Linked DNA regions of Homo sapiens. The protein of the gene in region 1 purifies or fractionates together with the protein of each later gene. This does not show direct contact. Each region holds a gene or a part of one and is shown in the gene's direction. Other genes may lie near its edges. The genes, in order: NRBP1, TSC22D3, TSC22D1 and DNA2.

Region 1 (8,160 bases):
GTGTGGTGGCTCACGCCTGTAATCCCAGCACTTTGGGAGGCTGAGGCGGGCGGATCATGAAGTCAGGAGATTGAAACCATCCTGGCTAACACGGTGAAACCCCATCTCTACTAAAAATACAAAAAATTAGCTGGGTGTGGTGGCACGTGCCCGTAGTCCCAGCTACTCGGGAGGCTGAGGCAGGAGAATCGCTTGAACCTGGGAGGCGGAGGTTGCAGTGAGCCGAGATTGCACCACGGCACTCCAGCCTGGGTGACAGAGTGAGACTCCATCCCCTCTGCCAAAAAATAAATAACCTATATCAGATCTAGTCCCCCAGAGAATGGAAACTTCAGAGCCTTTGAGCAATGTGAATGAAATGAAAGCTGGAAGCTTAAAGTCTTAGCTCTGGCTTGAATTTGTGGCTGCTTGAATGTGGGCATTTATTTTGTTTGTTATTGTATCTCAAGGACTTAGCCCAGTGCTTGGCCCACAATAAATGCTTAATAAAACATCTGTTAAATGAGTGAATGAAAAAAAAAATGTTGTTAACCAATACCCATTTGTCACACTCACATCACAGGAAAGGTGAGGTCATCAGGGATGAAGTCACTAACAACTGCCAGTCATGTGCCCCAAGGGTAGCCTCACCATGGACTAGTGGGCTTGTTCTGTGTAGAGAAGGGATGGATAGTGAATGCCAAGGTTAGTTCTAGCTGGATAAATTAGCCAAGGGTTTCAGCTGGATAAGTTGGCTGAGGGTGCTACAGGTCTAGCCTTAAGGCTGTCTCACTGAAACATTTTGGAGTCTGGAGTCATCTGTTCTGAATAGCGCCCACATAGTTTATATTTTTTTATTTTTTGAGACAGAGTCTCACTCTGTTGCCCAAGCTGGAGTGCAGTGGCACGATCTCAGCTCACTGCAACCTCTGCCTCCCGGGTTCAAGTGATTCTCCTGCCTCAGCCTCCTGAGTAGCTGGGACTACAGGTGCGTGCCACCACACCCAGCTAATTTTTTTATTTTTAGTAGAGACAGGGTTTTGCCATGTTGGTCAGGCTGGTCTCGAACTCCTGACCTCAGGTAATCCACCTACCTCGGCCTCCCAAAGTGTTGGGATTAAAGGCGTGAGCCACTGTGCCCGTCCACACATAGCTTAATTCTTGAGCACAGTAAAAATAGGGTGTACTTGGGGATTCAAAGGGAAGCCTATTGGATGAGTATTTGCCAAGAAGGAATGGAGCACCTGATTTTGCTGGTGATTTGAACCTTACTCTAAGTGGGATTAGACTGCCATAAATCTTGTGTTTGTCATTCCTGGGAGGGTCATCTTCAACTAAGATAGCTCCCCTTTTCTAGACTAGAGTTAGGAGAATAGTTAATGTTTCAGTATTTAGGACTGATTCTGATTTTGGATTTAAAGGAAACAAAGGTGGTGTGTGTTTTCTATTTTTAATTTTTAAAAGTTTTGTGTAGAGACTGGGGTCTTTTTATGTTGTCCAGGCTGGTCTCAAATGCCTGGCCTGTTTTATTTTCTTTTGAATTTGCAGATAAGTATTAGGATTATTAAATCTTTTTTTTTGTTTGTTTGTTTTTTGTTGAGACAGGGTCTCCCTCTGTTGCCTAGCCAATGGCATGATCATAGCTCACTGCAGCCTCAAACTCCTGGGCAATCAAGTGATTCTCCCATCAGCCTCTCGGGTAGCTGGGACTATAGCTGTGTACCACCTTGCCCTGCTAATTTTTAAATTTTTTTGTAAAGATGGGGTCTCACTTTGTTGCCCAGGCTGGTCTCAAACACCTGGCCTCAAATGAACCTCTTGCCTCGGCTTCTCAAAGTGCTGGGATTACAGAGGTGAGCCACTGTGCTCAGCTGGATTACTAAATTTTTTTTTGAGATGGGGTCTTGCTCTGTCACCCAGGCTGGAGTGCAGTGGCGTGATCTCAGCTCACTGCAACCTCCACCTCCCTGGTTCAAAAAAATTCTCCTGCCTTAGTCTCCTGAGTAGCTAGGACTACAGGCACGCGTCACCACACCCAGCTAATTTTGTATTTTTAGTAGAGATGGGGTTTCACCATGTTGATCAGGCTGGTCTTGAACTCCTGACCTCAGGTGATCTGCCCACCTCAGCCTCCCAAAGTGCTGGGATTACAGGCATGAGCCACCACGTCCAGCCTGGATTACTAAATCTTTACAGATGTATCCTGACTTTCTCTGCCTTTTCCCTCTGTATTTGCCCCAACCAGTGCAGGCCTGAGTGTTCCTTCCAGCATGTCGGAGGGGGAGTCCCAGACAGTACTTAGCAGTGGCTCAGACCCAAAGGTAGAATCCTCATCTTCAGCTCCTGGCCTGACATCAGTGTCACCTCCTGTGACCTCCACAACCTCAGCTGCTTCCCCAGAGGAAGAAGAAGAAAGTGAAGATGAGTCTGAGATTTTGGAAGAGTCGCCCTGTGGGCGCTGGCAGAAGAGGCGAGAAGAGGTAAGGTTATGGTACAGTTACTCTTGGGTGAGTGAATTCTGGAAAGGTGAGAACTGGAAGAGCAAAGTCTTAAAAGAGGCCAACCAAACTTCAATAGGTTGGGGGCTAGGAGGAGATGATCATATGGAGTGTTAAAATGGAGGATTTGTGAGATAAGTTTAATTCTCTTTCATATGAATTTCTTCTCAGGTGAATCAACGGAATGTACCAGGTATTGACAGTGCATACCTGGCCATGGATACAGAGGAAGGTGTAGAGGTTGTGTGGAATGAGGTACAGTTCTCTGAACGCAAGAACTACAAGCTGCAGGAGGTAGGTGATGCTGAAAAGGTGAAGCCTGGGGAATGTTGGAACACTGATGTTAGAGAGGAATTGGTGTTGGGAAGCTGCCCGTGAGGAGAGTATGTTGGGGTTAGATCGTTTCTGGGGAGGGATAGGGAATGGCTTCTCAGGATTATTACAGTGATTTGTGACTCTGTTATTCCACTGTCTCCCTTGCTTTCAGGAAAAGGTTCGTGCTGTGTTTGATAATCTGATTCAATTGGAGCATCTTAACATTGTTAAGTTTCACAAATATTGGGCTGACATTAAAGAGAACAAGGCCAGGGTAAGAATTTTTTCCCCATATTTCCTGAACTTATTGCAAAGAGACTAGCTACATTTATTATTGTTCCTTTTACACTCAGAGATTAAAACAAGGTAGTTTTGAAACAGAACTGGAATCAGCTGCAATGGCGATAAGAGTAGGGCTTCAGTTGTCACCTATGCCTTTTGTGTGGCTATAGATTGGGCAGAAAATGAGTGAACTTTTGCTTCTTTCTTCCCATAACTTTCATTGCTTGTTTTCATTGCCCTATTTAGTCTAAGTAAGTAAAGCTAAGAACAAAAGGAGAGAAATTTTAACAAACCTTCAAATTTAAAATATGTTAACAAGGGAAGGGATCATTTCTACTATAAGGCCTTTTAGTAAGTGCTTTGCCTCCCCAGGTCATTTTTATCACAGAATACATGTCATCTGGGAGTCTGAAGCAATTTCTGAAGAAGACCAAAAAGAACCACAAGACGATGAATGAAAAGGTATAGAAGGAGAGCAGACAAAGTTTGAGGCTGGTTTTTGGGGGTGGTTTTAAAAAGGACTCTGTTAATAATGAAGCTGATCAGGAAGGGACGGAAGGAGCTAGTGGGAGAGAGTTAAGAGAGGGAATTACTGCTGACCCTTGGATCCAACTTTGTTCCAGGCATGGAAGCGTTGGTGCACACAAATCCTCTCTGCCCTAAGGTAAGTAGTACCTGGTTAGTTTCTTACCCATATTTCCTGATGTAGTTACTCCAAACAGATTTCAGGGCACTACTCTTCTGTTCTATTCTGCCTCTCCCCACTTTCTTTGAATCATATACTGTCAAGATTAGGGCCCCTACGGGTCTTTTAAAGGGTGCGTCCTAATGCCCTAACCACGACACTTATCTCCTACCTCTTTCTCCTAGTGCTTATCCAGCTATTTAAATCATCAGGCATAATGGAGATTCAGAGTGTGGGGATTATCTTTATGGTGACCAGCAGGAGACCTGGCCCTTGCTCCTCTTAACCCTTGGGTTCCCCCTGCCCTTAATTTCCCAGTGGCCCCTCTAACAGCCCAGTGCCCCCACAGCTACCTGCACTCCTGTGACCCCCCCATCATCCATGGGAACCTGACCTGTGACACCATCTTCATCCAGCACAACGGACTCATCAAGATTGGCTCTGGTGAGGGGAGGGAGAGGTTCTGGGCAGGGGAGCCTCGGGAATTTGGGAACCATGGGGGTAAGATGAAAGGAATGGGGGATAACAGAGCAAAATTCTGAGGTGTGGGCTGGTGAGAAGAGAAAGGACCTTGCTAGGAGTAATTAATAGGAGAGGCCAGTTAATTAGTGGAGAGGGGGTAGGATATATAATCTTACACCTTTTTGAAGGGAAAATTGGGGTTAATACAGAGATACTGATAAGAGGCTGGGAAAGGGCAAGAGATAGGTTTGAGGTTTGATTTGAGTCCTGGGGCCAGACCCTGCCAGAGGAGGTTCCAGGCTGTTCCTGCTGTGAGTGCTTTCGTTTGCTGTGTATTGTATGCAGTGTACAACATTTCTGTGTGCTGTGTCTGTGTGGTATTTGTGTGTCCATTTGTCTGGGGCTTGGCTGCTCCATCGCTCACAACTTTTCTCTGTTTTCCTCCCTCCCGCTTACGGGCTGCTCTGTTCCCAACAGTCTTTCATAGGATTTTTGCTAATGGTGAGAGCTCCCTCTGCCCCACTTGGGGCTCTGTTTGTGCTCCCTCTGCTCCCTTGGCGGCTGCCCAGTGCATGCAGTCGTGGGAGCAAACCCTCTTCCCCTATCTTCCCTGCCTAATTATGCCTGCTTAGCTTCTGCCCTGCCAGCCCTCCGCCTGCTTGCCCCTTCATAACCTGCTTGTTTCCTGTGGATTCTGCCTGGCTGGCCACTTACCTCCTGGATTCATGTTCTCCCTCATCATCAGGCTAGTTCCCAGATCATACTGTGCTCCCAGATTCTCTGTGACTTGTAGTCATTGTTTATGATCTGAGTGAGTCCAAATTGGGCCTGGTCCTGGTTCCTCGTTCAGCTCTGTGGCAGACAGTGTTGAGGAATAAGGGGGTAGAACAGGAGTCTAAAATGTTTTGGTGGATTAAAAGTGGAACAGATTCAAGGGTATTAGCTCAATTCTGAGCTGTTTTGAGTTTCACTCAGCAAAGGTGGGTAAGAAGGAGGCTACCTCCTGAGCTGTATGTTAATACTTCTTATCCTTATTTATCCAAGTTCCTGAGGTCTCCAATTGTCCCAGATTAGGAAGGGCTGCCTGTGTTTTTATGTTATTTGCAGGGTGGATGAAAAAACTAAAACCAAATATTTTCATGTGAGCAGGGATTAGAGGTACCTGGGATTTAGGGAAGGTGAACGCAGTACAAGTGAAAATTTTTCCTTAAACTTCATTGCTTCTAGACCAGCCTGAAGCCCCTGTGTATCTGTTAATTTAGTCTGGTGCTTTTGTTGCTCCTGATTTAGGGACATTAGATGAGAAGCAGTAGGCCTAAGAAAGGGGAGGTAGGTGGCATCCATGTGTGGTCTGTAGTTCAGGACAGGAAAGGGAATATGTTTGTGCCTGTTGAGGGTCATCAGAAAGGAGACTTCAGGAGAGAATTTGGCTTTTGGGGCCTCTCTCTGGAGTGAGACTATTCTTCATTGATGATGGTCAGATTGTGGGTGTCTCCCCTACTCCCAGTGGCTCCTGACACTATCAACAATCATGTGAAGACTTGTCGAGAAGAGCAGAAGAATCTACACTTCTTTGCACCAGAGTATGGAGGTGAGCCTTCCTGCTTTCTCTGCCCTGTCCTCATCCCCCTGCTTTTGCACCTTATAACTTGAGGTACAGAGGCAATATAACTGAAACTTCTAGGCCTTCTCTACCAGCATACAAAATATTTTTCTTTTCTTTTTTTTTTTTCCTAAGGCATTCCTGCCAACCCTAGCCCCCAATCCTCTGATTAACCAAAGCCTTCTCTGTTTTCCCTAGAAGTCACTAATGTGACAACAGCAGTGGACATCTACTCCTTTGGCATGTGTGCACTGGAGGTGAGGGGACTGGAGGGGAGGGGGGAAAGGGGTCAGATGAGAAGATGGAATTGGGAATGGAGGGAAGACAAGTAAGGCGCTGGCTTGGAGGGAGTGATTGTGGGAGCACTGAAGTTCTTAGGTGTCTACTTTTTTTTTTATTCTTCCTCACTGAAGATGGCAGTGCTGGAGATTCAGGGCAATGGAGAGTCCTCATATGTGCCACAGGAAGCCATCAGCAGTGCCATCCAGCTTCTAGAAGACCCATTACAGAGGGTAAGGATCTTCAGGATCACTCCCTCCTCAACTGACCTTCAAATGTCTTCTGGTTTTTCTTCCTTTGTACCCACTGGGTATATGCTCCTAAGAGCTAGGGAACATAACAGAAAGGACACGAAAAATCTATAAACATTTTCTTAGGAGGTGCCTACCATGTTTTTGCATAGAAACACACAGGTAAGGGGGTTAAGATGGATGATGCTGGGGTTAAAAGTTGTGTGTTGGAAGCCGGGCATGGTGGCTCACGCCTGTAATCCCAGCACTTTGGGAGGCCGAGGCGGGCGGATCACGAGGTCAGGGGATCGAGACCATCCTGGCTAACATGGTGAAACCCTGTCTCTACTAAAAATACAAAAAAAATTAGCCAGGCTTGGTGGCGGGAGCCTGTAGTCCCAGCTACTCAGGAGGCTGAGGCAGGAGAATGGCATGAACCCGGGAGGCAAAGCTTGCAGTGAGCTGAGATCGCGCCACTGCACTCCAGCCTGGGCGACACAGGTAGACTCCGTCTCAGAAAAAAAGAAAAAAAAAAAAGTTGTGTGTTGGCTGGGTGCAGTGGCTCACACCTGTAATCCCAGCACTTTGAGAGGCTGAGGCGGGTGGATCACTTGAGGTCAGGAGTTTGAGACCAGCCTGGCCAACATGGTGAAACCCTGTCTCTACTAAAAATACAAAAATTAGCTGGGCATGGTGGTGTGTGCCTGTAGTCTCACCTACTCGGGAGGCTGAGGCAAGCTTGAACCCGGGAGGCGGAGATTGCAGTGAGCTGAGATTGGGCCACTGCACTCCAGCTGGGGCAAGAGAGCGAGACTGTCTCAAAAAAAAAAAAAAAGTATGTTAATTTGAATGTGTCTACATGGAGGTAAATTAATTTGATGGTTACTTCAGGCCATTGCTGTATACTCTCAGACAGCCATTTTTATATTTTTAAGCACATCAGTCAATTTAAATTAAACCAGTTGTTTGGGATTTTATATTTATACAGTTTTAGTTAGGGACGGTGGCCTGAAATAATGAGCTAAGATTTAAAAGACATAAGGTTATGAATCAGTTGATAGACTATAGTAAGCAGAGCCTGGGCAGGAAGGTCCAAACAAGAACAGTTTGTAACTCATTAGATAAGTATAGTAGGGAACAGGAGAGAAAAGAAGACTAGTGGGAAGTCAGGAGGATAGTGTGGAGTAAGTTTCTACTTCAACATTGAGGTGGAGTATTCAAGTGAAAGATTAGGTATGTGACCTTGTTAGCCTTCAAGGTTAAAAGCAGGAAAGCAGGTTAATTGTCATGGGACATGCAGGAGGTAGAAAAGGAGGCGGTGGTGGAACATGGTGGCTCATACTTTTAATCCCAGCACTTTTGGAGGCTGAGGTGGGAGGATCACTTGAGCTCAGGAGTTCGAGACTAGCCTGGGCAACGTGGTAAAACCCTATCTCTATGAAAAAATAAAAATTATCTGGGTATGGTGGCACATGCCTGTGGTCCCAGCTACTCTGGAAGCTGAAGTGGGAGGATTGCTTGAGCCCAGGAGGTTGAGGCAGCAGTGAGCTGTGATTGTGCCACTGTACTCCAGCCTGGTTGGCACAGCAAGACCCTGTCTCAGAAAAAAGAAAGAAAGAAAATAAGGCAGAATCGTTAGAGGAATCCTGGGAAATTCGGTGAATTCAGTGATTGTGGGCAAAGGAAATTGTGATACTAGGCTTGTGAAATAAAAAAATGGTGAATATTGATCACATTGGGTAAGTTTGGGAAGAGAGAAGCTAAATTTGGCAAGATTTAGAAAAGAAGATAGGCAGTGAGTTGACTAATAAAGCAGAGAGGTAGAAA
Region 2 (8,146 bases), on another chromosome or scaffold:
CCTCCCTGCGTAGCTGGGACTACAGATGCACGCTAGCATGCCCAGGGAATTTTTGTACTTTTTGTAGAGATAGTGTTTTGCCGTGTGGCCCAGGCTGGTCTTGAAATCCTGGCCTCAAGGGATCCGCCCACCCCGGCCTCTCAAAGTGCTGGGATTATAGGCATGGGCCACAGCACCTGGCCTTAGAACAGGGACCCCTAAAAATTCAGGGGAGGCTGGGCGCGGTGGCTCACGCCTGTAATCCCAGCACTTTGGGAGGCCGAGACGGGCGGATCACGAGGTCAGGAGATCAAGACCATCCTCGCTAACATGGTGAAACCTCGTCTCTACTAAAAATACAAAAAAATTAGCCGGGCGTGGTAGCAGGCACCTGTAGTCCCAGCTACTCGGGAGGCTGAGGCAGGAGAATGGCGTGAACCCGGGAGGTGGAGCTTGCATGAGCCAAGATCGCACCACTGCACTCCAGCCTGGGCGACAGAGCGAGACTCTGTCTCAAAAAAAAAAAAAAAAAAAAAAAATTCAGGGGATAGGCTGGGCACGGTGGCTCACGCCTGTAATCCCAGCACTTTAGGAGGCCGAAGCGGGTGGATCACCTGAGGTCAGAGGTTCCAAACCAGCTTGGCCAATGTGGCGAAACCCTGTCTCTACTAAAAATACAAAATTAGCCCTGTGTGGTGGCACATGCCCGTAATCCCAGCTACTTGGGAGGCTGAGGAAGGAGAATCGCTTGAACCTGGGAGGTGGAGGTTGCAGTGAGTTAAAATCGCACCATTGTCTGGCCTGGGCAACAAAAGCAAGACTCGTTCTAAAAAAGTAAATAAATAAATATTCAGGGGATAAATTAACTTAGATGGGAAAATATTACATCTTTGTTTTCACCAACCTCTAACTAAAATTTAGATTTCCTTCAACTACAAATGCAGAGAACAGATCACGATAGTGTTAGTGGTACCTGTGACTTTGTCCCCAATAGAAATCACAATTTTATGTCACATTACTGTTACTACAGGTATCTTTAAATATGTTTACAATTATCATTACTTTCAACTTGCCATGGTTATGAGAGTTGTTTCTATATATTGTTATTTATTACATTAATAACAAGCACTTCTATAACTATACCAGCTTCCATGTCTCACATTTTATTCTCCAGTAACACTGAACTGCTTTGTAATCCACACCCGGATATCAGCATACACACTGTTCTCAGCCCCAAGCCTCTGTTCACTAGTCTCTCTAGTCTCTCTACCTAGATTGTCCTTCTCTTCTGCCAGAGCTAACCCCTCCTCCACACCCAAGACATGCCACCCCCTATTCCCCCTACACACACCAGGCCTCCATTACCACTTAGTATTTGTACTGTTTTTGTCTGTCTGCAGCTCTGTTTCTGCAGCTAGACCATGAAGTCTTTGGGAGTTTGTCCTGTTTTGTTTACCTCTGAATCCCCACTTACACTATACCTGACACAGGACAAGCACACAGTGACTGTTGAATGAGTTCATCCAAGAAAGAGATGCCCCTTATACCCTCTTTCTGCTCCACCCAGAAAGCTACCAGCTCTGTCTGGAAGTGGGGGCCCCCCTCCGCTTTCTTAGTTTATGCAAAACGTTTTGCTGCTTGGAGTCTCTCCATCCAACGCAATATATGTCAGCAAAGCAAGGCTTCACAGAAGGGAGCCAAGGTGGCCCTGCCCAGTCAGCCTTCTCCTGAGGAGGTGTGCAATATGTCAATACAAGCTGGACTTGTATGCAAATACATACCAGCTCCTGAACTCTATCTCTGAACTATGTAGTTTTTTTATATCTCAATTATATTTACTCTTGATCAACCTGGATATAGTATGGAAAGCTGTACTGAATTATTAACAATACTGCTTGAGAGCAAGGACTACAACAAGGGAAATGTCAAGGGGACAGAATCTTGAGTTTAATGGTGCCAAATGCCAAGAAGGAAATACTTCTACCAGGGCCTCATCCCAAGGTTATGCACAAAGATAAAAGGACTCAGGCAAATATAGAAACAAAAGTCCCAGCAGTTCACAAAACACAACTTAAATAAACATTTATGGGTCTAATATATTTTGCTATAACGTTTAACATGAAATAATTATAAACAAGAGGAAAAAACATAAACACTGTAATTACAAAACAATTTAGTAGACTATAAGTCTACACAATGCAGATGAAATTTCATATTCTACTACCTCCTCTGGCTTTTACCCAAGAACATTTAAAAAAAAAAAAAGCGAAGAAGAAGAAAAAGGGAAATTAATACATCTAAAGGGTTTGCTTTTGAGAGGAGAAATAGAGACTCCTCAGCAGTCTGTTAGAACGAAAGGACCATACTCTCAGTTTTGCAGGTATGGTCAGTGACCCCCAGCACCTCTTTCACCTCTGACCTTGGGATCCTGTCAAGAGCGAGAAGTACGGCTTGTTTTTGGCTTTCCGGCTGCTACAGCATAGAGACCACAACCCCACCTCCATTTTCCCCAAGTTGCAGGGCACATATAGGACCCACAGGGCCTTGGGAATAAGAGTTACAATAGTTGGCCGCTCTTTGCTCTTAATCACAGGCCTGATGCTTGTGGTACCCGGAGGAAGTTTCAAATCTATGGAAGTCCAATCCGCAGGGACTCAGGCCAAGTGAAGCTCCACTAGAAAAAAGGGCGGCTCTGGCCCTAATTGGTGTTCCTGCCTATTAGCTGGAGCTCTCTTAGTGTAGGAGCGTGTTCCTGCCTATTAGCTTGGCCACAGAACTCTCTTAGTGTAGCAGCTCCGCCTCCTACACTTCTTCCCTGCTACTCTTGGAACCAACGCACTGTGGATTCCACCAGGAGGTACCTCTGGTGCCTCTCCGAGCTTCTGTGACGCAGGCAGAGAACGTTCAACGTCTTGGACACTAGATGGCAGTATATGCTGCTCTATTTCAAAGGCCAGACTTGTGAATGAAGGAGCCGATGCGGGGGTGGGGAGTACTGACTGAAATGTAAGTCAGTTTTACGTGAAAACTGAACGTCATGAAAAGTTTAGTTTTTTCAGACACTAATCGTTATTTAATCCTACACATTTAAAGTATTCCAAGTCTCTGAGTCCTGAGAAACCCTGGAAACCCACCACTTGCCCACCCAGAACATCCCTCCATCTTACAGAGCTGGGGCACGCCCCTCAGGCCTGTGAACATGCAATCGCTACATCTATTGAAAGGGTAACGACAGACGGAGATCAACTAAGGTGGCAGGTAAGGTTCAGAAAAGGAGAAGGACAACAAATTTGGAGAAATAGGAGAAGGTAAGTGAAGTGAGGAAAAAGAGGGGGTGCTGAAGTAAGAAATGAGGGGAAAATAAGGGAAATGGCGGGGGTAGGGGAGAGAAAAATGAGAGAAAAGAGGAAAGGGGAGAAAGGGGAAATGAGGAAATAGAGAAAAGGAGAAAAGAAATAAGGAAAGAAAGGTAAAAGAATGGAAATGGGGGAGAAAGTAGAGGAAATGGGTAAAGAAAAGAGAAAAAATAAGGGAAATAGTGGAATGAGTGGAAGCAGAAGAGCAGAGAGAAGGAAGGGGAGGACTGAGGAGAGACGGCGAAGGGGCAGAGGGAAACCGGGACAGAGACTGCCTCTGAGGGGTTCAGGGAAGAGAGGACACAGCGAGCTGGGGAAAGGAGGTGACGATATCGTTAAGTAAGCAGAAAGAGACAGAAACTGAGGAGAGTTTGAGCGTGCTTCTCTGAGTTTTGCTTACGGCATTTATTGGGTACTCCTAATGTGTGCCTGGCACTCTCTGACTCTCTGCAGAGGCAACCGCTCTCCTTGCACGCCCCCCCCCCAGAAAAAGGGGGGCTTTGGAGGGCGGCAGTTTAAGGCTACAACACTTGGGGCTCTCGAGGGCGTCGTCTCTTCTGTAGGGGGACCCATTCGAGGTGAGACTAGAGACATTTGCCCTCACGCCGAGCTCGAGCCCCGCGAGACCGGGCCACTGAGGGGGCACGGCAGCCCGGGTGGGCTGCGTGCGTATTTCTGGCGGAGGATGCGCCATGAGCGCTGAAAGAGCCTGAACCGAAGCGTCCGGCTCGCCGAGAGAGTGAGAGCCGGGCCGGCTCCCAGGAGCGCGGGCGAGGGTGCGAGCGGCAGCGTGGATGCCAGGGCACAAGGGTGCGGGCGGGGTGGGGCGAGGGGTGGAGGGACAGGATCCAGCCGCTCGGGGCCCCCGCCCGCCAGCCGGAGAAGTGGCGGAGGACCGTTCTCCGCCGTCCCCTCTAGGGTAATTTACATGCTGTCATATCCCAGTGCTGACTCCCGGGCGTGCAGACCGCTAACTAGCTCACTCGCTCTCAGCTCCTGCCACCGCTCAGCCGTCACAGCCCAGGGGAGCCCGAGAGCCTGAGAGCCTGCAAACCGGGGAGGGAGGGAGCAAAGGAGGGAGGGAGCAAGGGCGCGCCCTGGCTCTCCCTCTGCCCTGCTGCCCGCCCTTCCTGCCTCCACAGGTCCGCCCCAATCCCCGCTCACACTTGGGAAACTTGGGACTGCGCTGGGGCCGCGTGTGGCACCTCAGGGGGGCGGCCCCCGGCCTCAAGAGGAGGGGGAGGAGAAGGAGGAAGAGGAGGAAGTGAGCCCGAAGGATCCGCTCGGAGCTGTTTGTCCAGCTGTTTCTATTCGCACCCGGAGCAGTACAGCCAGAAGGGGGCCGAGCCGAAGGTGGCTGGCTTTAGGCGCTAATTTCCAACTCTTTTCCTCACAGCTTGTCTTTTCCAGGCACCCTGGAGTCCCCTCAGGCCAGCTCGGTGGGCGCGCACCTGCCAGCCGCCCCTGACCTCGCAGGCCAGGCGACCTCCGAGCCTGAGAAGATGGCCCAGTCCAAGCTCGATTGCCGCTCACCTGTCGGCCTCGACTGCTGCAACTGCTGCCTGGACCTGGCCCATCGGAGTGGGCTCCAGCGAGGCAGCAGCGGGGAGAACAACAACCCGGGCAGCCCTACAGTGAGCAACTTTCGGCAGCTGCAGGAAAAGCTGGTCTTTGAGAACCTCAATACCGACAAGCTCAACAGCATAATGCGGCAGGATTCGCTAGAGCCGGTGCTGCGGGACCCCTGCTACCTGATCAACGAGGGCATCTGCAACCGCAACATCGACCAGACCATGCTCTCCATCCTGCTCTTCTTCCACAGGTGGGTGGCTCGGCACACGGCGGCAACTCGGTCCTTGCTCCCACCAGCCTCTGCTGCACCCTCATCTCTGGCAAAAGGGGCAACTAGGAAGTTCAGGAGGGGTACTGGGGAGGTCTGACTCAGGCTACAGTGACTGGACCTTGAGGTTGCCTGGAGTACCGCGGAGCTGAGGGGAGGACTGGCAGGTGCAAGCCCTATTCTGAAAGCTGCCTGCAAAGGCTTTCTGATGGGGACGCTGGGGCCTAGAAGGTGGGCAGACCCCAGATGGTTTGGAGGTAGCTGAAAGTACCCGCTCCTCAAATGCATACATTTCCATAGCCCCTTTGGAGATTCTGCCATGGGGTCTTCTTGAGTTCCAAGTTCTACCCTTCTCAAAAGCCCATCTCAAATGTGCAAAATCAGATTGAAACTACAAGGGCTTTAAAATTACTGAGTGCCCCTGACTGACAGTGAGGGCAAGCAAAATGTCAAGACAAATTAAACTGCTGGTGGTAGGAGAGGGAGATGGGGAGGGGAAAATTTTTAAAAATCAGAGACTTGTGAGAATTTCTTGAGCCTCTGGATGGGAGGGATTCGCCTCCTCCATGGATCACAGCGTTAAATTTCAAATGTAAGCTAAGCGCAACCCCAGAGAGCACCCTAGGACATCTTGAGTGCCTCAAGAACTATGTGTGGCAGGAGGGCGGATGAATCCATGTCGTTGCAGGCGTGTATTGGTGTACCGGTCAAGCTTTCTAGAAATCCTGCTGGGGAGGCAAGGAGAGGACAAGGGAGGGAAAAAACACAATGGGAAGACCCAAGGCAGCTGCTGTCCTTCAGTTTGAGACACTCTGGCAAGAACCAGTCTCTGGGAACAACTGAGGCAATTTAGAGGCAGGGCAGACAACATCAGGAAACCCAGCCATGGATTTAGTGTCCTTAGCGCCATCAGGATAGGGCACCAACATGTGTGTGTGAGTGTATAAGCGAGGATTTATTCTTGCTCAACAACACAGGTTATGTAAGAGAAAGACATCGCCACTGTGGGAGACCTGGGTTGTAGTACAAGTTATGGCTTCACCTGTTTGTATGAGCCTGAGCAAGTCGCCTGACCTCTCTAGTCTCTCCAAGGTTCCTTTTAGCTCTGAGATTCTAGGCTGTAGGCAGGCGATGTGCCCAGACAAAGTGATAAGAAATTCTGAGCACCTACAAAATATTTAGAATGCAAGCAGGCTCAAATAGGAAATTTTAAAAGCAATCGAGAAAGGCAGGCGCTATTCTCACTTAATGCTAAGAGCAGGTTTGCCTCCCTTGCCCCAAGACAAATCCACCATCGCCTCCCGCTCAGCCCAGCCCCAGTGATTCTGGGCAAGACAAGCAGGGCCGCTAACCTCGTTAGTGTTATTATAACAAGTCGTATTCCTCGGGCATTTTCGACACCATTGAAGCCCTTTCTCATCTATTATTTCACTTTAGGCATCAAATTATCTCATTGTCTAAAATAAACCAGGCTGAATTTTTAAAAATAATAAAATAAAATAAACCAGGCTGCGGGCAGAAAGGTTTCGAGGGAATCTTCATTTCTAGTGAAAGATTACTACAAGTGTATTCAGCCCACAGACGTTGAAATCCTGCCAAGCGAAAGCCCTAACAGGCTCCTAAGGATCCCGCCTGTCTCTGTTGGAGAGTGGCAGTGGGGGAGGGGTAGTAGAAAAACCTGGAAAGAGCGCTTGTAGCATTTGCATTTGTTCAACTGGGAGAGAAACTGCCACTCCAGGCTTTAGGAAAGTGTGAGAGGGGGCGCCTCTTCTGGTTCTGGCCCTAGGAGGGTCAAACCTGGGTGAGGGAAGTGTGAGGCTAAAAGCCTGAGATCAAAGTGTTTCCTTCTGCCACACCTCGGGAGCATCCTGGTTGTTTGGGTTTGTGGAAAGGGAATACCTCCTTTGTCATCTACTCCACTAATACGAGTTTATTGACTCTTGGTTTTAGGCAAAGCCTGGAAATGCTACAGGGTGGAGATGTAGTGGGGTGGCATTATAGGTATTGGTTGAGGGAGAAGCGCAAATTGTAGGAAAGGTTTGTGTGAGCACCCTGCCTCCTTCGATCAGAGCAACTCACTCAGCGTTCAAAACCAGTGAGGAGCTAACCAGCAAGCTCTCAGGCTTCGCTAAGGCTGGGAATAACAGGGTCCTGTGGTAACAGTCTTATAGTTCTAAGAGGACAAAGTATTCTCTTGCTTTTATTTATTTTTATTTATTTATTTTTTTCCTGAGACAGGGTCTCACTCTGTCACCCAGGCTGGAGTGCAGTTGCATGATCACAGCTCACTGCAGCCTCAAACTCCTGGGCTCCATCGATCCTCCCACTTCAGCCTCCCAAGTAGCTGGGACTACAGGCACACACCACCATGCCCAGCTAATTTTTGTATTTTTTTTTTATAGGGACGGGATCTTGCCATGTTGTGCAGGCTGGTCTCAAACTCCTGGGCTTAAGCGACCTGCCCACCTCAGCCTCCCAAAGTGCCAGGATCACAGGCATGAGCCACTGATCCCCTCTTGTTTTCCTTGACAATTGGGACCTTAGAGACTGGGGATTCTGAATTCGGTTTAGGTTTTGCCCAGTATGACATGCTCATTAGCAAACTAGAAGACCATTATTGCTGGTCATGGGGCTTCTCCAATATCTGGGGTAGACAGCCTTCTCCTAAGTGAACATATCCCTTGTTACTTCATTAAATTCCCTGGGTTTCTATCATCATACTTCAGCCATCGTTTTTACTTCTATTCAATTTAATGATTTGACATTTCAGGTTCCTGTTGGGTGCTTTTTTCCTTTGTCAACTTTCAAGGCCTCTCCTGCTGGAGAAGCTAGTCTCCCACCCCTCCTCCTGCAGTCCATTCCTTTGCCAAGAGGGCTCCTATATTTTTAGGAAGAAGAGCAGGGCACATTCTTGATTTACATCTGGTTTGTCTGCTTTGACCTGTCCCTGGCTCCCAGCTTCGTTCTTGGT
Region 3 (8,160 bases), on another chromosome or scaffold:
ACCTTCTCAATAAAGTTAACTTTTAAAAGGTAAATCCACAAAAAAATGAAAAAATAATATGGGTCATGTATATTTTATGAGCATTCCGTGTTTTCTTCCTTGCTCTGTTTTCAGTAAAACTGCCTTTGAGCTTATCTAATTGTTCCATTAGATCTATCATACACCTATCAGTAGCTCACCTGTGCCCTGCAAATGCTTAGATGTGTTAGATAATCTGTGTGTTCATTAGCACGGAAGCTCTCCCTCCTGGAGTTCTCCATCTTCCCTTACCATTGCAGACCAGGTACAGACCAGCTGCAGCTTGGGCTTGTCCAGCAGCAGTCCCCCTGAGATCTCCCTGCACTCCAGCCTGCTGATTCCCTTCCTTTCCTCCAGTATCTGAGTTCCTGGTTCCTATTTCCCATGCCTGCCTTTTTTCTTGATTTGCTCCTCCATTTTGGTGTCTGAAATATCTAAAAATGTTTTAATTCTACCTTTACACTCAAATGATGATTTGGCCAAGTAAAGAATTCTGGATAAAAAAACTCTTTTCTCTCAGAATTTTAAAGACATTTTCTTCATCTTTTTCTGACTGCCAGCAAAGTGGTTCTGTTCCTAGTCCCTGTGTTTGTAACTTGTTTCTTCCATTTGGAAGCTTTTAGTATTTTCTCTCTATGCCTAGTGATTAAGGTTTCAGGGTGGTGTGCTTTGGTGGAGGGCTTTTTCATTTCTTGTGGTGGGCATTTGGTCATCTCATTTAACTGGAGACTTGTGTCCTTCAGTTCTGGAACAATTCTTAAATTATTTGATAATTCTCTTCCTTCTGTTCTCTCTCCAAAATAGAAATGCATCCTATTTTGATGTTGGACCTCCTAGATTTATCCTTTTTCTTTTCCGATTCTTTTTTTTTTTTTTTTTTTTTTTGAGACAGAGCCTTGCCCTGTTGCCTAGGCTGGAGTGCAATGATGCGATCTCAGCTCACTGCAACCTCTGCCTCCTGGGTTCAAGCAATTCTTCGTCAGCCTCCCCAGTAGCTGGGATTATAGACATGTGCCACCACGCCCAGCTAATTTATTTGTTTTTGTTTTTTTTTAAAGTGGAGACGGGGTTTTACCATGTTGGCAAGGCTGGTCTTGAACTCCTGACCTCAAGTGATCCGCCCATCTCACCCTCTCAAAGTGCTGGGATTACAGGCATGAGCCATCGCGCTCGCGCCCGGCCACTGTTCTACTCTTTTGGAAGCTTTTTCCAACCAGCCTTTCTGTGGAGATAAGGAAATGTAAATTGTGGTTGAATTTAACAGCCATTTCTTTGGCATTTCTTCTTGTTTTGACAGTGTGTGGGACCCAACACTAAAACACTATTTGTTGTTTTTCTGCCATTCACATTTAACTGATAGTCCTGTAGTTTCATTTGTTAAACCTGGTAAGTATATTCCCATGCCTAGTGAGAGTAAACTAGAAAAATGGAGGTGACGTGGGAGTCCTTAGACAGCAGTGATTTGGTCAGGTACAGGGTAATGTGCCTTCGCTTCTTTCCTGGCAGTTGTTTTAGATTTGCAAGGAGTTTGGATAGGGGGAGAAAGAGGTTACTCTATTTCAGTGCTGAATCTCCAACTGTACCGGTGTTGGCCAAGTCAGATTAAGTTTGGAAGAAAAGCACATGTTACAGGAAACAGAAACACTCAGGCCTGTTCCTCTTTTCCTATCCTGTCATGCTTGCTACCAATATGCAGTAGCAGTTGAATTGGAATCTGTGTAAAAAGGCTTTTAGGCAGACAACACTAGAAAATACCTCAATCTCAATTGTCCAGGCTGTTTAATGTGTATGAGTTCCCACTGAGGTGATACCTCCTGATCTTTGCTCAGTGCCTGAAATAGACTTATATGGTCCATGGCTTTAAGGATCTCTCCTGGAAGCCTTGTAGTATTTTTCTCTGCCCTGTCAGCAAGTCTCAGTGAGCTCTGATGAGGCACCAGACATATGGATCGTTTGTCTTGCAATTAGAAGAGCCTTTGAATGTAATTCTAGCCATTTGTGCCACGGACATTTCTGATCCAAGGGTTTTCCCTCCATGGAGCTTTCCATTTCCTTTGCCTTCTTTTTCAAATTATGTCTTCTCAGTTTTCATACAAAAGTCTAGTTTTAAAGGAATCTAGCATATTTATGTGAAATATATGAGAAAATTAGATTTCTAATCATTTTTTTAGTTGCCTATCCTTTGGCTCAACAAATTCTCCAGAAGTGTGCACACACACATACATGTTCAAGGATGTATGTAGAAGGATGTTCCTTGCAATTTTATTTAAAATATCCAAGTATTAACAATAACTGTAATGTCCTTCAATAGGAAAATGGGTTAAATAGACTATGGTTGCTTATATTTGCTTCTCTTGCTTGATACAATGGATGATCAGTTAAAATGATTGAAATAAAAACAGCTTTCTGTTTATGTTGAAGAACGGCATGAATAAATTCAGTTAATTTAGTAATTTTTTAAAACTGCAGCTTGGAATTTAAAAATTTTTTTATATGACCTTAGAGTTTTGTTTTTTAAAGCTCTTTTTATAGCTTAAATGGTGCTTTAATACCCTTTTTTCATGAAGTTGGCATTCAGTTAAAACATGTAAATGGAATTTAGCATACAAATAGTTTTAGGTATAACTTTAACTTTCAAAATATAGAGACTATCATGTAGTAAATAATATTCTGGTTAGCATTCATAGACATAGGGACCACATGCCAGCTTCCCAAATAATTACGATTTCTAAGCTTCTACTTAGTCTCCTTTTGTTGGAAATGGGTATCTTTTTTTTTAAAGCATCATATGAGTTAATATATGTAATTTTTATAAATTATAAATATGTTAACAATTATTGTTATTCAAAAGCCAAGCCTTAAAATTTGGAGAATATGAACCTTTCAGTAAAAAGGGAATCTCATCACTTTATAGTTGGTCACACTTTGGTTTTTAACCCAAAAGAGAATTGTGGTCTTCATCATTTACTGTGCTTACCGATCTGGTCTGGTTCCTAATAACTTTGGACAGTTTCTGAAAACCAAATCTACCTACCCCCACTACCAGCATTGAGTCAACTTAAAAACTGTCTAAATGGATCTGATGGCAATTTTAGAAAAGGATGCTGCTTGAGGAAAGATGCTTATTTTGGAGAGAAGACTGTGTGTGTTTGTGCATGTGCGTGTATTACATATATATGTTCTACGGTCAGATTTTATGTTGGAATTATTTGTGATGACACAATTTTATCTACAGATTAGAGAGGTCTCCCCAAGTACTTTGTAGATTTTTTGGTTTTTATATTATGCCATTAGAGGGCAGTATTGTAGAGGTTAAGTTTTCTTTCTCGCATGTATTGACTTGGAAACTGTTTATGTTGTATTATAATTTAGCAAACTTCAGGGCTTAGATTTCTAGTATATTAAATTGTAGCCTTAATTGATGCATCCCTGCAAGTATTTTAAATTAATATAGGAAATTTTGAAAGGGTTAAGCTATTTTATACCCACATCTCTCGATTTTGGTTTGGAGAAGGGAATTATTTGGTCAGTGTGGCCAAGAGGGTGAAACAGAGGTGAGCCTACAGCATCTATTGGCTGCTTAACTATTTTTAACCACCATTATATCCTCCCTTTTCTGGTTCTGGACACTGCAAATGGGCAGAGACTAACTTCAAGGATTTGTATGCTTTGAATACATACTTTATAATATTTCAATCCCTCTGATGTAAGAAGGCTCATAGGATTGAGGGATTGAGTCTTAGAGGAATTGTCACTCAGCTTGCAAAAACGTGCCTTAGGGACTTAACTAAAAATAGATTTATGTGGAATTCAACCTGTGGATTGACTTTTTTGGGTCTAAATAGAAGAAGGCATATTTAGTTACTAGGGAGAAGATGCTAATAGGGAGATGTGATTTTAAGGTTTGTGGCTCTACGGGCTTTTTGGGAAGATCCTGGATTTTATCTGGAGTCTTTCCCTCATGCCTAGCAAAGAATATATAATGTTTTTTGTTTTGTTTCTATAAAACAAAAGGTAGTATCTCTCAAAGAGCAAATGTGATTTTTTTTCCTCTAAAATTAAAAAAATACATGATTGCAGGGTGATTATTATCTTTAAAAATAAAACCGTCTATAAAATCCTCCCAGTACCGCTGCCGGTAAGAACTAGATAATTGAAATCAAGACACTCGAAGTCTTACAGTGGTGGGACTGGGCATGCCCAGTAGCTCAGACGGTTCGGGTTACAAATAGGAAGCTTTCGCCGTTAAGCAGCCGCGGGACACAGCTCCGGGGACCGGGGTCTGACTCCCTTAAACGTAAGCACGTGTGGGGGCCCCCATAGTATTTTTCAGGGACCCTTCACATTTTCTGCCGAAGCAATGGCCCAGTGTTTTGAGGCCGCCGTGGAAACCTCCGAACCCAGCACCCCACTCCCTCTGAGCACGGCCCGCGCCAGGCCAGCCCACCCCACGAGCGGGATCTGGAGAATGGGGGCGGAGGTGGGGGTGGGGGGAGGCGGGGAAGCAGGGAAGCGGGAGGACCTGGAAGGGAGTAGGGGGCGGTCCCAGTGGCGTGCCGGCCAATCGGCGCAGCTCTTTCCTGCATATATTTTGCACTAAGACTGGGAGTCCTGGTCTAGAGCTGAGTGGAGCCCGGCTGCGGATCTGGGAAGCGCCTCTTCACGGCACTGGGATCCGCATCTGCCTGGGATCATCAAGCCCTAGAAGCTGGGTTTCTTTAAATTAGGGCTGCCGTTTTCTGTTTCTCCCTGGGCTGCGGAAAGCCAGAAGATTTTATCTAGCTTATACAAGGCTGCTGGTGTTCCCTCTTTTTTTCCACGAGGGTGTTTTTGGCTGCAATTGCATGAAATCCCAATGGTGTAGACCAGTGGCGATGGATCTAGGAGTTTACCAACTGAGACATTTTTCAATTTCTTTCTTGTCATCCTTGCTGGGGACTGAAAACGCTTCTGTGAGACTTGATAATAGGTAAATGTCGGCTAAGATAGTTTCTTTAAATTTATTCGTGGGATACTTATAATAATACAGGTGAAAGATAGCCAGGCGAATTCCTTTGTCCATTGCTGAGAGATTATGGTGACATGGATGTTGTTTTTCGAAATGTTAAAAAACCTTATTTTTGCAAGTCTGGCCAGAGAACAGGCTTTCCCCACATTATGTAATTTAGTCCTTTGTGGCTTACTAAAATAGGGAGATGCCTGGATATTCGTTAGTAAGAGAGGGGCTGGCATTTTCTGGAGGGTGATACATTACATAGTGTTAAATAACATTCAAAATATGATGCTAGCAATATCACAAAATTGGGAGATCCTTTTTATCTTGGAAGCTTAAGATAAATTCCATTTATCGATGACCTTTTTCCCTCCTCTTTTTCAGCTCCTCTGGTGCAAGTGTGGTAGCTATTGACAACAAAATCGAGCAAGCTATGGTATGTACTGATGAAAAATCATTTATACTAAATGTGGGCACAGCACAAAAATAAGATGTTTTGTGGAACCAGTGCATCCCTAAGTTCAGATGATGATGATTGCTCTTGATGCGCGTAGAAATGCCGGCGCTGTCTCCATTCGGCCAGCGTGGAGCCACCTACCACGGCAGCCGTGGAGGGAGAAAGGGGCCCTGCGGGTATTAAATGGTCTTCTTCCCCGGACTGGTTTCACACGACGGGATTTTCTCACGGTGACCCTTTTTGCTGGGGATTTATTAGGGAAGCGCTGGCCAACTATCTCCTTCGGCTGGTCGTGAGCACACCTTTAGCGATGTGGCTTTACTAGGAATCCTAATATTTTACTAGGGAGCCGGGAGGTGGGGAGGGCCCCAGAAGTCGGGATCCTGGATAAGGGTCTTCTAGACGGTGCACAAACGGGTCCCCGGTGGCGCGGGCTCCTTCACAATGAAGAAGAATCAGAGAAAAAGTTTTGTTTTCTTAGCCTGCGCCTGGATTTCTCCTATTTTTTATTTCCGCCTTGGCCGTTCTTTGTTATTGGAGCAGCGCCTGTGGCTCTTCTCACGGGATTCTCTGCCCACTGTTGCTAGGCAAACTCTGAACCTTTAATTCGGAGCTATAAATAACTCGGGCTCCCATTGGCTGCGACGTCTGCCCAGGTTTCTGTGATGTCAGCTTAATCACGAAAAGAGGGGGGCGGGGTGGAGGGAAGAAAATGCGGCAACATGTTCGGTAGGAACTGGCTGCAGCCGGTGCTGAAGGAGGCGGCTCCGGGCGAGCGCGGGGCGGGGCCTGGGGGCGGGGACGCGGTGGGCGCGCTGTGGCTTGGACGTCCCCGCTGCTGGTCTCAGTCGGGGACCCAGCGCCCGGCTCTGGCCCAGTCTCAGGAAGCCTTACTTGGGCGTTTCTGGCCAACGTCTGCAGAGAAGCACAGACTTTTACAAAGCTTGATCATTTATACGTTAAACTCAAGTATTGTACAGTCATGTTTGTATTCAGATTTCCCCAAGTGTCATTGAACCAACTTTAAAGGTGGAATATGTAAATAGTTAGGGAGATCCATGTAAAATAATGTCTTGGAAACTCAAAAGAGTCCAGAAAATACCAAATAATGAGTTAAACCTTTTCTGTCTTCTTTCCAGGATCTAGTGAAAAGCCATTTGATGTATGCGGTCAGAGAAGAAGTGGAGGTCCTCAAAGAGCAAATCAAAGAACTAATAGAGAAAAATTCCCAGCTGGAGCAGGAGAACAATCTGCTGAAGACACTGGCCAGTCCTGAGCAGCTTGCCCAGTTTCAGGCCCAGCTGCAGACTGGCTCCCCCCCTGCCACCACCCAGCCACAGGGCACCACACAGCCCCCCGCCCAGCCAGCATCGCAGGGCTCAGGACCAACCGCATAGCTGCCTATGCCCCCGCAGAACTGGCTGCTGCGTGTGAACTGAACAGACGGAGAAGATGTGCTAGGGAGAATCTGCCTCCACAGTCACCCATTTCATTGCTCGCTGCGAAAGAGACGTGAGACTGACATATGCCATTATCTCTTTTCCAGTATTAAACACTCATATGCTTATGGCTTGGAGAAATTTCTTAGTTGGGTGAATTAAAGGTTAATCCGAGAATTAGCATGGATATACCGGGACCTCATGCAGCTTGGCAGATATCTGAGAAATGGTTTAATTCATGCTCAGGAGCTGTGTGCCTTTCCATCCCTTCCGGCTCCCTACCCCTCACTTCCAAGGGTTCTCTCTCCTGCTTGCGCTTAGTGTCCTACATGGGGTTGTGAAGCGATGGAGCTCCTCACTGGACTCGCCTCTCTCCTCTCCTCCCCCCAGGAGGAACTTGAAAGGAGGGTAAAAAGACTAAAATGAGGGGGAACAGAGTTCACTGTACAAATTTGACAACTGTCACCAAAATTCATAAAAAACAATAGTACTGTGCCTCTTTCTTCTCAAACAATGGATGACACAAAACTATGAGAGTGACAAAATGGTGACAGGTAGCTGGGACCTAGGCTATCTTACCATGAAGGTTGTTTTGCTTATTGTATATTTGTGTATGTAGTGTAACTATTTTGTACAATAGAGGACTGTAACTACTATTTAGGTTGTACAGATTGAAATTTAGTTGTTTCATTGGCTGTCTGAGGAGGTGTGGACTTTTATATATAGATCTACATAAAAACTGCTACATGACAAAAACCACACCTAAAGAAATTTTAAGAATTTGGCACAGTTACTCACTTTGTGTAATCTGAAATCTAGCTGCTGAATACGCTGAAGTAAATCCTTGTTCACTGAAGTCTTTCAATTGAGCTGGTTGAATACTTTGAAAAATGCTCAGTTCTAACTAATGAAATGGATTTCCCAGTAGGGGTTTCTGCATATCACCTGTATAGTAGTTATATGCATATGTTTCTGTGCATGTTCTCTACACAATTGTAAGGTGTCACTGTATTTAACTGTTGCACTTGTCAACTTTCAATAAAGCATATAAATGTTGATAAACAAGTGTTTTTCATATGACCCTGTTAACATAATGGCAGTCATTTCCACAACTGTTTCCAGGTAAAGTTAACAATTTGACTAGTAAAATCCTGAAGGGCAGTGGAATGATTGGAAAAGTAGGGGCGTGATTTGACTGCATGAAGTAAAAGGAAATTGACACATTGAGTTGTTCAGCAGGTAAGAGAAGAGAC
Region 4 (7,000 bases), on another chromosome or scaffold:
TTCTAATACTAGCCCTTTAATGGATATGTGGTTTGCAGGTATTTTCTCCCACTCTATCGCTTGCTTTTTATCCTCCTCATAGGGTCTTATGCAGAACAAAAGATAGTTTTATTTATTTATTTATTTTATTTTTTTGAGACAGAGTCTTGCTCTGTCGCCCAGGCTGGAGTGCAGTGGCACAATCTCGGCTCACTGCAAGCTCTGCCTCCCGGGTTCACGCCATTCTCCTGCCTCAGCCTCCCAAGTAGCTGGGACCACAGGCGCCCACCACCATGCCCGGCTAATTTTTTGTATTTTTTTAGTAGAGACGGGGTTTCACCGTCTCTTAGACAGGTTGGTCTCCATCTCCTGACCTTGTGATCTGCCTGCCTTGGCCTCCCAAAGTGCTGGGATTACAGGTGTGAGCCACCACGCCCGGCCTATTTATTTATTTTTTGAGACAGACTCTCACTGTGTCACCCAGGCTGGAGTGCAGTGGTGTGATCTCCACTTACTGCAACCTCTGCCTCCCAGGTTCAAGCGATTCTCCTGCCTCAGCCTTTCAAGTAGCTGGGACTACAGGCATGAGCCACCATACCTGGCTAATTTTTGTATTTTTAATAGAGATGAGGTTTTGCTGTGTTGGCCAGGCTGGTCTCAAACTTCTGACCTCAGGTGATCCGCCCACCTCAGTCTCCCAAAGTGCTGGGATTACAGGCGTGAGCCACTGTGCCCGGCTGCAAAAGGTTTTTTTTTTTGAGGAAGTCCGGAATATACATTTTTTCCTTTTATAGATTATACTTTTGGTCTCAAGTCTAAGAACTCTGTCTAGCCCCAGATGCTGAAGGTTTTCTTTTTTGAGACAGAATCTTCCTCTGTCACCTAGGCTGGAGTGCAATGGCCCGATCTTGGCTCTCTGTAACCTCTGCCTCCTAGGTTCAGATGGTTCTCATGCCTCAGCTTCCCAAGTAGCTGGGACTACAGGCATGCACTACCATGCCTGGTTAATTTTTTGTATTTTTATTAGAGACAGGGTTTCACTGTGGTGGCCAGGCTGGTCTTGAACTCCTGGCCTCAAGTGATTCACCCATCTTGCCCTCCCAAAGTGCTGGTATTACAGGTGTGAGACACAGCGCCTGGCCTGGTATTTGTTTTTTGGGTTTTTGGGGTTTTTGTTTTTTTTTTGAATTATGAAACATTTCCCATTTTTATTTATAAAATTATTAATTAAATTTGCAAAAGTAGATTTACAGAGCCTCAGGTAACAAAACAGGAAATGAAATGTTCCAGAGATGGCCGGGCGCGGTGTCTCACGCCTGTAATCCTAGCACTTTGGGAGGCCGAGGCAGGCGGATCACGAGGTCAGGAGATGGAGACCATCCTGGCTAACACGGTGAAACGCTGTCTCTACTAAAAATACAACAAATTAGCCGGGTATGGTGGCAGGTACCTGTAGTCCCAGCTACTTGGGAGGCTGAGGCAGGAGAATGGCGTGAACCGGGGAGGCGGAGCTTGCGGTGAGCCGAGATCGCCGCCACTGTACTCCAGCCTGGGAGACAGAGCGAGACTCCATCTCAAAAAAAAAAAAAGAACACAAACATGGCCGGGCCCAGTGGCTCATGCCTGTAATCCCATCACTTTGGAACACCGAGGCGGGTGGATCACGAGGTCAGGCGTTCGAGACCAGCCTGGCCAACATAGTGAAACCCTGCCTCTACTAAAAATACAAAAAATTAGCTGGGCATGGTGTCAGGCACCTGTAATCCCAGCTACTCGGGAGGCTTAGGCAGGAGAATCGCTTGAACCTGGGAGGCGGAGGTTGCAGTGAGCCGAGATAATGCCACTGCACTCCAGCCTGGGCTACAGAGCAAGACTCTGTCTCAAAAAAAAAAAAAAAAAAAAAAAAGAAATGTTCCAGAGACATTCTGAAAAGTTCCAAAGAAACACACACTAGCCTAAAAATCTCAGTTAAACCATGGTTGCACAACAGGTTATATTTATTCCTGCATTTTCTCAATAAGTTCCTCCTTATATTTGCCTTTCTCTTTTCTGACTTGTCGAGACTTGGCTTTGTGTTCAATAATTTTTTTCCGATCCTTGTTGAGATTTAGCCTGGTGATAACCACCTTGTTTGGGTGAGTACCCACGTGGACGGTTGTGCTGTTGGCCTACTCACGCTGCACCTGCTCAGTGTAGATGACATCTTTCTTTCTGTACACCTGGACTACCTTGCCAATTTGCTGACCTTTGTAGTGTCCTTGAACTACCTGGACCTCGTCGTCCTTGCGGATGGGTGTGGAGCGGACATTGTACTTCTGCCGCAGCTCCTTGGAGAGCGGGGATGACATGATCTTCCGGTGCACGTGCAAGGGGGCATGGAAGTGACGTTTGCGGTTTTTGCTGCGGTCCAAGTTCACGAAGGGATTGAACTTCATGGTGATGCTCCGGCTAGCGGCGGCCTCAGGCCTGTTTTGTTTTTTTTTTTTTTTTTGAGACAGTGACTCACTTTGTCACCCAGGCTGGAGTTCAGTGGCATGATCAAGGCTCACTGCAGCCTCGACCTCCTTGGCTCAAGTGATCCTCCTGCCTCAGCCCTCCAAGTAGGTGGGACTATAGGTATATGCCAGCATACTCAGCTTATTTTTGTATTTTTTGTAGAGACCGGTTTTCGCTGTGTTGCTCGGGCTGGTCTCAAACTCCTGAGCTCCAGCAATCTGCCCACCTTGGCCTCCCAAAGTGTTGGGATTACAGGCGTGAGCCACTGTACCTGGCCCAGTTATCATATTTTTAGTTCTAAAATTTCCATTTTATTCTTTCTATCTTCTATTTCTTGGCTGAGACTTTGTTTTTTGGTTCATATTCAAGCGTGTTCATAATTACTCATTAAATGTTGTTACCGTGGCTGCTTTAAAATCTTGGTCAGATAGTTCTGACCTCTCTGTCATTCTGGTGTTGGCATTTATAGATTGTCATCTGTTTTCATTGAGTTTGAGATTTTCCTGGTTCGTCTTTAATTATTGATTTTTTTATTGAAACATGAGCATATTTTGTTGTTACTGAAAACTTCTGTTTTAGCTGGCTTCCTCTCACACTGCCATGGTAGGGGAAGAGGGGTACCACCTCATTCCTGCCAGGTGGGAGTCGAAGTGTGGGTTCCCCACTCAGCCTTCTTTGACCAAAGTGGGAGGTTCCTCGTTACCGCTGGGCCCACTTGGTTGGGGTGGAAGTCTAGGCTTCTGATGTGGTCTCTACTAACATGTGGGGTTGGTGCCAGTTACCAGTCATCGGGGATGAAAGACCTGACTCCCTACTTGGCTTTCTCTGACACCCGCCTGGTGGGGTGTGGGGCACCTTGTTACAGCCTTGAGAAGGGCAGAGATCTACCCTCCTCCCTGTTTGCTGGTGTCTGTGGTTGTGGGGCTGTACTTTTTTTCCAGTGATATTTGGCTAGAGTAGTTATTGTGTGAAAGTTTTCTGTCTAGCTAGGCTTTCCTTTTCCTGTTCCTTCAGCTGGAGAGAGCAGACTTTGGTTGCAGCTGTTTTTAGCACCCACTGGTGTGCCGTGGCTCCTTCAGTTCCAAATCTGGGATCTATGAGGCAAAAAGAAAGCCCAGGGAATCAACTACTGTGTTGTTTCTTTGGTCCTGAGCTCCCTAGCTGGTCTGCCTTCTCTCCACCTTTCAGAGTCTTCTTTTGTTTTTTTTTTTTATATATAATGCCTAGGGATTTTAGTTGTCGTTTGTGGAAAGAATAAGGAAAAGTACTCCATCTTCCCAGAAGCAAAGTCCTGGTTGACATTAAACAAACAAACAAACAAACAAAAAAAGAACTAACTTATTACCTCTTGAATGTTCCAGATTTCCACTGGGAAATATCCAAATGTGAGCATTGTTCAATAGTGTCTGGAAAGTTTACTTGATTATTTTTAATTTGTAGAAAAAAATTAAAATTTGCATGCTATAAATATTTCAGAATTAAATAATATCGAAGGATTCCTGATGCCATAGAACAAAAACCTTTTGATCTTTTCATTTCAAAAATGAGAGAAACAAAACTACATTTCTTTTACATGTTAAATAACTGATCTGTTTTCCTTGTTTTTAGCTTATAGTTGCAACAACATGTATGGGAATAAACCATCCAATATTTTCCCGTAAAATTTTTGATTTTTGTATTGTGGATGAAGCCTCTCAAATTAGCCAACCAATTTGTCTGGGCCCCCTTTTTTTTTCACGGAGATTTGTGTTAGTGGGGGACCATCAGCAGCTTCCTCCCCTGGTGCTAAACCGTGAAGCAAGGTAGGCAGACACTTAAGTGTTAATTTTAAACTAGATTATTTTCAAGGAACAGATTTAGTACACTGATAAACATGAATCTGATTTATTGACAGAGCTCTTGGCATGAGTGAAAGCTTATTCAAGAGGCTGGAGCAGAATAAGAGTGCTGTTGTACAGTTAACCGTGCAGTACAGAATGAACAGGTATTTGTAACAGTGTTAGCTAGGAGTGGTTTTCATGTTTGTTTCCATCTACCAAAACTAAAGTTATCTTTTGTAATTCCCTTAGTAAAATTATGTCCTTAAGTAATAAGCTGACCTATGAGGGCAAGCTGGAGTGTGGATCAGACAAAGTGGCCAATGCAGTGATAAACCTACGTCACTTTAAAGATGTGAAGCTGGAACTGGAATTTTATGCTGACTATTCTGATAATCCTTGGTTGATGGGAGTATTTGAACCCAACAATCCTGTTTGTTTCCTTAATACAGACAAGGTAAAAAAAAAAATTTCTGTTTAGTTTTTCTCATTTTGTCCTATTATTTAAATTTCTCAGTTTTCATTAGCACATGCCCTAATTAGAGCTTATCAGTTAAAAGGCAAAACTAGGCTGGGCGTGGTGGCTCACACCTGTAATCCCAGCACTTTGCGAGGCCAAGGCGGGCAGATCACAAGGTCAGGAATTCAAGACCAGCTTGGCCAACATGGTGAAACCCTGTCTCTACTAAAAATATAAAAAGTAGCTGGGCATGATGGTGGGTGCCTGTAATCCCAGCTACTCAGGAGGCTGAGGCATGAGAATTGCTTCAGCCCGGGAGGCGGAGGTTACAGTGAGCTGAGATCACACTGCTGCACTCCAGCCTGGGTGACAGAGCAAGACTCCCATCTTGGGGGGAAAAAAAAAGGCAAAACTAATGTACTTCTCATACTTCAACCCAAAATAGTCTTTTCTTTCTTTTTCCTTTCTTTTTCTTTTTTTGAGACGGAGTCTTGCTCTGTTGCCCAAGTGGCATGATCTCGGCTCACTGCAACTTCCTCCTCCCAGATTCAAGCGATTCTCCTGCCTCAGCCACCCAAGTAGCTGGGATTACAGGCACCCACCACCACACCAGACTAATTTTGTATTTTTAGTAGAGACAGGCTTTCACCATGTTGGCCAGGCTGGTCTTGAACTCCTGGCTTCAAATGATCCGCCTGCTTCAGCCTCCCAGAGTGCTGGGATTATAGTGTGAGCCACTGTGCCCGGCCCAAAATAGTCTTTCTTTCTATAGGCCCAGTATTTTTTGGAGGAGGTTTATTCTGGAGGTCAGTAGATATCAAAATTGACTTTTGAAGAAGGAAGGCCACAAAGTGAACTCAGGGGTATAATTCTATTTCCTAGAAAAGGAAATGGCACTGATACTATCAAAGGGCTGGGTTTACAAATGGACAGAGGGTATAATAAATTGATGTCCTTTTAAAGACTTTTTAAAAAACAGACTTTAAACCCGGGCACAGTGGCTCACTCCTGTAATCCCAGTACTTTGGGAGGCCGAGGGGGGTGGATCACTGGGGTCAGGAGTTCGAGACCAGCCTGACCAACATGGCAAAACCCTGTCTCTACTAAAAATGCAAAACTTAACTGGGTGTGGTGGTGCGCCTGTAGTCCCAGCTACCTGGGAGGCTGAGGCAGGAGAATCGCTTGAACCTGGGAGGCGGAGGTTGCGGTGAGCCGAGATCGCGCCACTGCACTCCAACCTGGGTGACAGAGTGAAACTCCATCTCAAAAAAAAAAAAAGCTTTATTTTTTAGAGCAGTTTTAGGTTCATAGCAAAATTATGTGGAAAGTACAGAGGTTTCTCATAACCTCCCTCCCCCACATATGCACATGAAGACCTTTTTACAAACCAGTCATTAAAAAGAAATCTGCACAACGACTTTTTTGTTTTTGTTTTTGTTTTTTAGGATGGAGTCTTGCTCTGTCTCCCAGGCTGGAGTGCAGTGGTGCAATCTCCTGGTGTCTCAGAAAAAAAAAAAAAAAATCAAGATTGCTTAGGGATGATGTAGGAGGAAAGTAGTCTTTGAAGAGATGTATCAGGAGGTAGGACAGCAGTTTTATCTGCTCCATTATTTGTATAAAAGGGGACAAGAAAATGGAAAGAGCACAGATATACGACCCAGATCTAAGTTTGTTTGTTTGATTCTGAGACGGAGTCTCACTCTGACTCCCAGGCTGGAGTGCAATGACACTGTGTCAGCTCACTGCAACCTCCGACTCCCAGATTCAAGCAATTCTCCTTCCTCAGCCTCCTGAGTAGCTAGGATTACAGGCACGCACCACCACGCCCAGCTAATTTTTGTATTTTTAGTAGAGACGGGGTTTCACTGTGTTGGCCAGGCTGGTCTCCAACTCCTGACCTTGTGATCCGCCTGCCTCAGCCTCCCAAAGTGCTGGGATTACAGGCGTGAGCCACCGCGCCCGGCCACCCTAAGTTCAAATAGTAGTGCCACAGTTTATTGTGAGGCCTTGGGAAAGTTACTTATTCTTTTCTGCCTTTGATTCCTGTAAAATGGGGGATAACAAAGTGAAGTATTTGAAGCTCAGTGTGTGATCAGCTTTCGTAGGTATTTTAGCCTCAATCATAGCATGTTTCAGATAGGTGGCCTCTGCGTGGCTTTCTGAAAGTGACTAATATTAATATTCATTTTTGTTGATTCTTTCACCTTCATCTTTTAGACAAAGCTATTTTTCATCTCCAAGTCGGTAG

Evidence for each region.
Region 2: the proteins of NRBP1 (region 1) and TSC22D3 purify together in Homo sapiens (affinity purification with mass spectrometry; 5 studies listed by BioGRID and IntAct, with this or other methods). This does not show direct contact.
Region 3: the proteins of NRBP1 (region 1) and TSC22D1 purify together in Homo sapiens (affinity purification with mass spectrometry; 6 studies listed by BioGRID and IntAct, with this or other methods). This does not show direct contact.
Region 4: the proteins of NRBP1 (region 1) and DNA2 purify together in Homo sapiens (affinity purification with mass spectrometry; 2 studies listed by BioGRID and IntAct, with this or other methods). This does not show direct contact.

Annotation. Positions count from the first base shown.
Region 1 is NC_000002.12:27,431,025-27,439,184, forward strand, and holds part of NRBP1 (nuclear receptor-binding protein), read left to right. Parts: intron 1-2,224; exon of another isoform or gene 2,225-2,229; 5' UTR 2,230-2,249; coding exon 2,250-2,459; intron 2,460-2,648; coding exon 2,649-2,771; intron 2,772-2,964; coding exon 2,965-3,066; intron 3,067-3,446; coding exon 3,447-3,536; intron 3,537-3,697; coding exon 3,698-3,738; intron 3,739-4,108; coding exon 4,109-4,203; intron 4,204-4,698; coding exon of another isoform or gene 4,699-4,722; intron 4,723-5,728; coding exon 5,729-5,812; intron 5,813-6,022; coding exon 6,023-6,081; intron 6,082-6,237; coding exon 6,238-6,336; intron 6,337-8,160. UniProt on the Homo sapiens protein: Required for embryonic development. Plays a role in intestinal epithelial cell fate and proliferation, thereby involved in the architectural development of the intestine potentially via the regulation of Wnt-responsive genes.
Region 2 is NC_000023.11:107,772,111-107,780,256, reverse strand, and holds the start of TSC22D3 (TSC22 domain family protein 3), read left to right. Parts: upstream 1-4,469; 5' UTR 4,470-4,837; coding exon 4,838-5,157; intron 5,158-8,146. UniProt on the Homo sapiens protein: Protects T-cells from IL2 deprivation-induced apoptosis through the inhibition of FOXO3A transcriptional activity that leads to the down-regulation of the pro-apoptotic factor BCL2L11.
Region 3 is NC_000013.11:44,433,331-44,441,490, reverse strand, and holds part of TSC22D1 (TSC22 domain family protein 1), read left to right. Parts: intron 1-4,198; exon of another isoform or gene 4,199-4,315; intron 4,316-4,632; exon of another isoform or gene 4,633-4,862; coding exon of another isoform or gene 4,863-4,987; intron 4,988-5,395; coding exon 5,396-5,447; intron 5,448-6,607; coding exon 6,608-6,865; 3' UTR 6,866-7,476; coding exon of another isoform or gene 7,477-7,526; 3' UTR 7,527-8,160. UniProt on the Homo sapiens protein: Transcriptional repressor. Acts on the C-type natriuretic peptide (CNP) promoter. Acts to promote CASP3-mediated apoptosis.
Region 4 is NC_000010.11:68,419,974-68,426,973, reverse strand, and holds part of DNA2 (DNA replication ATP-dependent helicase/nuclease DNA2), read left to right. Parts: intron 1-4,083; coding exon 4,084-4,277; intron 4,278-4,369; coding exon 4,370-4,459; intron 4,460-4,544; coding exon 4,545-4,749; intron 4,750-7,000. UniProt on the Homo sapiens protein: Key enzyme involved in DNA replication and DNA repair in nucleus and mitochondrion.